Linked DNA regions of Homo sapiens. Changing the gene in region 1 together with any one later gene gives a genetic interaction. Each region holds a gene or a part of one and is shown in the gene's direction. Other genes may lie near its edges. The genes, in order: GPI and PRKCZ.

Region 1 (3,806 bases):
CCCAGCCATGCTTGCTCCTTTCTGATCCCAGAGCCATGCCCTGATAATAGAGGGGTTTTGTTTGTTTTTATTTATGTTCTATTTACTCACATGAATGTACATAAAATATGAAGAATTCCATCTGAATTCTGAGATACCTTCCAGCCTGGGCCGAAGAGAGCCTCAGGTTGACTGCAGCCCCTCAGGGGAGAAGCTGCGGCCTTTGACCTGCAGGCTTAGGGTTGGGGGGTGTGTTTACCGTCCCCCCTCCTCTGGTTTTAAAGAGCTGGAATCTCAGGAGGTTATGTGGCGTCACTGTCACTGACCTGCAAATACTGCTCCATGGGACAGCTGGGCATTGCCTTGGCCTCTACTGCTGAACCCTGGCTCAAGGCCTGCACCCACCCCTAAGCTCGGGCGCCCACTGCTGTTCTCTTTGGTTGCAGACCTTTACTACCCAGGAGACCATCACGAATGCAGAGACGGCGAAGGAGTGGTTTCTCCAGGCGGCCAAGGATGTGAGTGGGCTATAGGGCCTTCCTCGTGGTTAGCCTCTGGGCTGGGAAGAGCAGGGTGGGCCCCTGAGTGACCAAGTCTGGCCGTGTTTCTCCTGAAGTTGGAAGTGAAGGCGGCCTTGCCGGTGCCTGCCTTTGCTAGATGAGATGATTGTTCATCTTGGCTTTGTCAGACCCAGCCTTGCAGATGTGACAGAACCTGCTCTCGCTGGCTGACAGCCCTTGCATGGCCCTTTCTCTGCAGGCCCTTGGCGCTGCAGGAACTCTTGGCCACACCTATTTTATAGGGGAGGGACGTCCCTGAGCCCCGTATGCTTGTAAGATGGGATGAGCAGGCGGCCTGTGACCCGTCTGCTTTCTTGACCTTGACCTCGATGTGGGCCTTCTCCAACAGTCTCAGAACCAAGGACTGGGAATCTCAGTCCCATGCAGGGCCTTGGTTCCTCTAGTGATGGGAAGTGACTACCCTTTGTCTCCCTGGGCTGGCTGTGGTAACTTGGCTCTGTCTCTTGTAGCCTTCTGCAGTGGCGAAGCACTTTGTTGCCCTGTCTACTAACACAGTAAGTGCCCCCGTGGTCCCCTGTACTGCCTTCCTGGGAGTGCCCAGCATGTCCAGGTCATGGCCTCTCAGAGACGCGGTTCGTAGGTCTGGTGGATCTTGGCTTGGCTGATGGTATGGAAGGTTTGGTTGCCTGTGGGCTGCAAGCCTTCCTTGCCTTTTCCGCATTTACCCATTCAACCTCTGCAGCTTTGAGGAGGGAGGCTTGGAGTCAGTGGGATCACGATAACCCCTTCTTCCGTCTCCCAGGCCTGACTGATACACAGAACCCTTCATACACATGACCTTCCTAGGCCTTTGTGCCCAGCATCTCCCCAAATGTGACATGCTAGGTAGGGGTAGAGGATGCATTCCATTTTTCACTTAAGGACATAAAGCCCCAATGAAGGGAGGTGACATTTTGCCCCCTACTTAGTGTGTGTGGTTTTGTTTTTTTTTTTTTTTTTTTTTTTTTTAAGACAGTCTCACTCTGTTGCCCAGGCTGGAGTGCAGTGGCGTGATCTTGGCTCACTGCAACCTCTGCCTTCCAGGTTCAAGCGATTCTCCTGCCTTAGCCTCCCGAGTAGCTGGGATTACAGGTGCACGCCACCATGCCCAGCTATTTTCGTATTTTTAGTAGAGACGGGGTTTCACCACGTTGGCCAGGCTGGTCTCTGACTCCTGACCTTAAGTGATCTGCCCACCTCAGCCTCCCAAAGTGCTGGGATTACAGGTGTGTGCCACCATGTCCAGCTTATTTTTTGAGACAAGGTCACTCTGTCACTCAGGCTAGAGTGCAGTGGTACGATCTTGGCTCACTGCAACCTCTGCCTTCTGGGTTCAAGTAATTTTTATGCCTCAGCCTGCTGATTCTGGGATTACAGGCGCCCACTACCACGTCCAGGTAATTTTTGTATTTTTGGTAGAGACAGGTTTTCTCCATGGTGGCCAGGCTGGTCTCGAATTCTTGACCTCAAGTGATCTGCCCACCTCGGCCTACCAAAGTGTTGGGATTATAGGCATGAGCCACTGTACCCGGCCCACTTAGTGACTGTATGAGTAGGTGATGCCAGGATTAGAACCTGGGTCTCCTGTCTCCAAGTTCTCACAGTCTGCCTGGCCTCGAGGTTGTGCAGGCTCAGCAGGGCATGACAGAGTGAGGGATGCTCCAGGAGTGACAGCAGCAGTCAGCCAGTGGGCACTGTGCTGTGTCAGAGCTGGGGACTACACCCACATCTCCCTCCCACCCCCTCCACCATCATCCCCACATCTCTGCCTCCAGTGCCTACCCAGCTGCAGCAGGACGCCATAAGGCTGGCTAACCATAGCACTGTTGCCTGCCTGCAACTGACTGGTCAGTAGGGCTTCTCCTCCTATGTGGAATAGGTAAGGAATTGCTGGCCCTGTCTGCCCTGGGGACCAGAATACCTGATGGCTCCTCAGAGCTTCCTGGTGCAGTCACCCTCCCACACATGGGAAGGGCTGGGTGGCTGTTCAGCCTGTGTTTGTTTGCCTGGCCTGGTAGGTGGCCCCTGCCCACACTTGGGTCCCAGTCCTAGGTTCGGTTCCCAGATGTCCAGGGGTATCATGCTCTGGTGTCCCAGGCAGGCCTGGGTGAGAGCTGTTGCAGAGCAGTGTGTGGGCCAGGTCCTCACACGGGGTTACAGCTGCCCTCAGCAGGGGGCTTTGCAGGCACAACGTCACTGGCGTGCTGGTCATGGACTGATCTGGTGTCCAGCTTGGGGTGGGCAGATCCTGGGCCCTGCCCTCGACTCACAGGCTGCTCCAGCCCTGCCCCATCCCTGGCTCTGGGGAAGGTGAGGCTCAGCTCACGGAGCACAGCTCCCTGCCTCCCGGAGCTCCTGTTCCCATCCCGCTAGCAAATGCTTCTTTGCATTTCTCTCCCTTTGTTTTTTTTTTTGTAGACCAAAGTGAAGGAGTTTGGAATTGACCCTCAAAACATGTTCGAGTTCTGGGATGTAAGTACAAGCACTTCTGCACTGGGTGAATTAAGTGTCCTTTGCCAAGTCATGGCTGTTGAGAGGCCCATGAGGTCAGGTCAGTGTTTATTGAGTACCTGCTGCATACCTAGCTTGGGGAAAGGTAGAGAGGCCCTCAGAGAGGCTTGGAGGGCAAGAGCAACCCAGGCAGGATGAGGGCTCCACTTCCACCTGAGGGCGGGCTGAGCTTGCAGGGCCACATGACACTCCCTTGGGTGCCTGCCTGCAACACCCACTGTGGGGTAACCCGAGTCCCCCTTGCCACGCTCACAGAGTTGAGGTTGTGAGTTATTCTCAGTGATGACCTTTCTCTGAACTGCAGCCACCATCTGTAAAGGCCAAGGGCAGGGTGAGGCATGAGGTATGACCGGGTAGGCCTGGAAAGGAGCAACAGGAGCTGCAGGAGGAGCTGGGGGGGTGGCGTAGAGGAGGCGCCAGGCTGGGGCAGCTTGCAGAGCAAACCCTGCCTTGAGTGACAGGGCTGCCGACCCCTCTGTAGCAACAGGTGGTCCATGGGACCACCTCTGCTGGAGCCGAGCAGTGAGCCACAGCTTTCCTTGTGCACTTGCCTGAGCTCAGCAGTGGTGTGAGGAGGGCTCTGACTGTGAAGCCCAGGGTGCAGGGGTGCAGTGCAGGGTGTGATGCAGGCACTGTGAATGCTGTGGGCATGGCCGGGCTTACGTGCAGGGCTCTAACGCTGTGGCAGGCGCAGCAGAGAGGGCATTGCCCATTTGGTGGTTTTCCCACCTGGGGCTGTCTCCAGGCATTTGGACC
Region 2 (3,806 bases), on another chromosome or scaffold:
AGAAACCATGTGGCCCAGTCCCTGAGACGGGAAGGGCCTGCGTGGTCCTGATGACATCTGCGGATCTTTTAAAATCATACGATCATGTCTGCGAAACCGGGATGCCACTTCCCACCTGGCTTCTCCCTGACCCCAGCTTGTTCCCTTGGAGGGCCGGTGGACTCCTCAGCCTTGCAGCAATGAAATCAGGCCTTGAGGCCACCCCACCCGTGACCTGCGGTGCTGTCCCCATGCAAGAAACTGCCTCGCTCCAGCCCCCAGCAGATCCTGTCCCAGCCCCCAGCCCTGGTCCAAGCCACCTCCACTCCCACCTGGTGACGGGCCACCTCCTTCATTCCGGGGCCCACCCACACTTCCCAAGTCCACACACAGTGGCCAAGAGTGAAGGCCGGCGAGGCCCCCGCATGACTCCCTCACCTGCACCCTTCACGAGCGGCCCCGCAGCCCGTCCCCACCAGCCCCTCTCTGCTGCCAGGGTGCTCCTGCTGCTCTTTGCTCTTTGCAAGACTGAACCTGCGGGAGGGTTCGGGCCCACGAAGGCCGCTTCTGTGGGGCTTCTGTCTAAGGAGGCCGCCGTCTGCCGAGGTGACTGCAGCCTCCGGCGCCTCTCTCCCTGCAGGTTGTTCCTGGTCATTGAGTACGTCAACGGCGGGGACCTGATGTTCCACATGCAGAGGCAGAGGAAGCTCCCTGAGGAGCACGCCAGGTGGGTGCGCGTGGACGGGGCCGGGTGGGTGCGCCCGGAGTTGGGGATGGGTGGGTGCGTGCGGTGTTGGGGGGCTGGGTGGGTGCGCACAGAGGGATGACGGGTGGGTGCGCGCGGAGTTGGGGGGCCGGGTGGGTGTGCGCAGAGGGGAGGTGGCTGGGTGGGGTGTGCACGGAGGGGGTATGACGGGGGCGGGGGGGGCGGGGTGCACGTGGAGGGGGCCGGGGACCTTCTCCAGGGGTCAGCAGGGAGCTCAAGGGAGGGAAGTCCAGGTAGGATGGCAGAGGGCATCATGTCCCCCACAGTGTGACGTCCCCTGCATTGTGACACATTCCATATTTGCTCCAGAGTCACAACATTTGGGAGGTCTCCTGAGTTATGGTGCCTCAGACCAGTCCCCCAGGCCCCACCCCTGAAGCAGCACCATGCCTCATCCGAGAGAAGTGAGAGTCTCCTGGGATTGTGCTGTCTTCATGGTGGCTCTGCCCTGGTTCTGCTCTTCACCCTGTTAGTGGCACAGCATGGCCAGCATTTCCTCAGCGTTAGGAGCAGAACGAGAGTGGTCTGTTTCTAGAGTGACCTGAGAGACTCCTTCCTGCCCTTCCCTTTCATCTCTGATATCTTCGGGCCTCCCCTGGCAGCCGAGGGGCCTCCAGCATGGTTCAGGAGCCTCCCCCGGCAGCCGCGGGACCTCCAGGACCGTTTGGGGGCTTATTTCAGCTCCCTGGACCTTTCCTGTCTTTTGTAGTTTCTCCTTTTCCTCATTTCCTTACTTAAGAACGTTGCATGCAGTTTTGTGAGTCACCTTAGATTGTTTCTGGCAATAGGACAGTAGGCAATAAATCTAGAACAGTACACTTCCCACAACGCTGTTTTTAAAAACTGTGGCAACACACAACATAAAAGGTAGCATTTTGGGGCATGGAATTCAGTGGCGTTGAATGCACCCCATGCTTTGCAGCCACTGCTGGCCCCCGTCTCATCTCCAGAGCACGCCCCTCTTCCCTGCTGAAGCTTGGCCCATCAGACACTCCCTCCCTGTCCCCCGCCCCAGCCTCACATCCTCACCCCAGACGGGCACGTCCCACTTTCTGTCCCTCTGATTCGAGGACTCTAGGGACCTCATCGGAGTGGAATCACAGTGTTGGTCCTTCGGTGGCTCATTTTCCTGAGCATAGCGTCCTCAAGATTCATCCGTGCTGTGGCCTGTCTCAGAATTGCCTTCCTTTTTCAGGCTGGATAATGCCCCGTTGGATGGAGGGGCCACACTTTGCTTATCCGTCCATCCCTCGGGGGGCACTTGAGTGGCATCCACATGTTGGCCATGGTGAACAGTGCTGCTGTGAACATGGGTGTGAAGTAATCTCTTGAACACCCTGCTTCCGGTTCTTTGGGGTATACACCCAGAAACTGAATTGCTAACCACATAAGAATTCCATATTTAGGCCGGGCGTGGTGGCTCACGCCTGTAATCCCAGCACTTTGAGAGGCCAAGGCGGGCGGATCACGAGGTCAGGAGATCGAGACCATCCTGGCTAACACGGTGAAATAACACAGTGAAACCCTGTCTCTACTAAAAATACAAAAAATTATCCAGGTGTGGTGGCGGGCGCCTGTAGTCCTAGCTACTCGGGAGGCTGAGGCAGGAGAATGGCGTGAACCTGTGGGCAGAGCTTACAGTGAGCCAAGATCGCGCCATTGCACTCCAGCCTGGGTGACAGAGTGAAACTCTGTCTCAAAAAAAAAAAAAAAAAGGTCATATTTAATTTTTTTTTTTTTTTGATGGAGTCTCGCTCTGTCACCCAGGCTGGAATGCAGTGGTGGGATCTCAGCTCACTGCAGCCTCTGCCTCCCAGGTTCAAGTGATTCTCCTGCCTCAGCCCCCAGAGTAGCTGGGACTACAGGTGTGCGCCACCATACCCGGCTAATTTTTTTGTATTTTTAGTAGAGACGGAGTTTCGCCATGTTGCCCAGGCTGGTCTTGAATTCCTGACCTCAGGTGATCTGCCTGCCTCGACCTCCCGAAGTGCTGGGATTACAGGTGTGAGCCACCAAGCCTGGCACCGTGTTTAATTTTCGAGGACCTGCCGGACTGTCTTCCGCAGCAGCGGCGCTGTTCTGCACTCCTACCACAACGTGCCATGGCTCCGGTCTTTCCCGCATGGAAGCTGTCGTGTTATTTGCCCGCTCCTCCCCTTGTGGAGGCTGCCACATCGTTCTCTGTGTCTTTGACAGCAGGCCATCCTAAGGCGCATGGGGTGGTGTCCTGGAGCTTTCATTGGCATTTCCCTCCCTGGCCCTGTGCACTGCACTTTCAAATCCTGGGCCTGGTCATTGAGAGGATGCCGGGCCCGTGGTGGGGCAAACGGGAGTGTGTGGCCCCCAGGCTGGAGCTGTTGGCGCAGCCTCTGGCACAGGCACTGCCCCCATGACGGCATCCCCACCCCCAGGTTCTACGCGGCCGAGATCTGCATCGCCCTCAACTTCCTGCACGAGAGGGGGATCATCTACAGGGACCTGAAGCTGGACAACGTCCTCCTGGATGCGGACGGGCACATCAAGCTCACAGACTACGGCATGTGCAAGGTGCGTGCCTTGGACCGCCTCCCCTGACCATCCCGCATGTGCGTCTCGGGGCGCCTGTCCCGCGGGGTAGTGTCTACAAGAACCCTCTCCCAGTAACTTTGCCCCCACAGGAAGGCCTGGGCCCTGGTGACACAACGAGCACTTTCTGCGGAACCCCGAATTACATCGCCCCCGAAATCCTGCGGGGAGAGGAGTACGGTGAGTGCCGCTGCCCTGGCCCCTCTCGGAGCACACAGGGCCAGAGATGGCTTCGGGCCTGGCCCAGCAGCCAGGGAGAGGTGTCCTTGACCATCTTACACCCAAAAGCCACACACTGTCTTTCCCAGCCGGATGTCATCATCTGGCCTCAGCCCCTTATTTGAATTCTGGAAAACCTCCCATGTCCACTTGAGCAGCTCCTTGGGGAGGGCACTGCACAGGATTCCTCCTGCCAGGGAGCCCCGGGGCACAGGGAGGGGAAAGACACAGAAAGCGGGGGTGGGACAGGGTGCAGCACCTGAGTCCCCGTGCTGCA

Evidence for each region.
Region 2: changes in GPI (region 1) and PRKCZ together harm fitness more than expected from each alone (negative genetic interaction), as found in Homo sapiens cells (one large-scale study listed by BioGRID).

What each region holds. Positions count from the first base shown.
Region 1 is NC_000019.10:34,378,509-34,382,314, forward strand, and holds part of GPI (glucose-6-phosphate isomerase), read left to right. Parts: intron 1-425; coding exon 426-497; intron 498-1,009; coding exon 1,010-1,054; intron 1,055-2,957; coding exon 2,958-3,011; intron 3,012-3,806. UniProt on the Homo sapiens protein: In the cytoplasm, catalyzes the conversion of glucose-6-phosphate to fructose-6-phosphate, the second step in glycolysis, and the reverse reaction during gluconeogenesis.
Region 2 is NC_000001.11:2,168,899-2,172,704, forward strand, and holds part of PRKCZ (protein kinase C zeta type), read left to right. Parts: exon of another isoform or gene 1-552; intron 553-595; coding exon of another isoform or gene 596-619; coding exon 620-706; intron 707-3,156; coding exon 3,157-3,292; intron 3,293-3,402; coding exon 3,403-3,490; intron 3,491-3,806. UniProt on the Homo sapiens protein: Calcium- and diacylglycerol-independent serine/threonine-protein kinase that functions in phosphatidylinositol 3-kinase (PI3K) pathway and mitogen-activated protein (MAP) kinase cascade, and is involved in NF-kappa-B activation, mitogenic signaling, cell proliferation, cell polarity, inflammatory response and maintenance of long-term potentiation (LTP).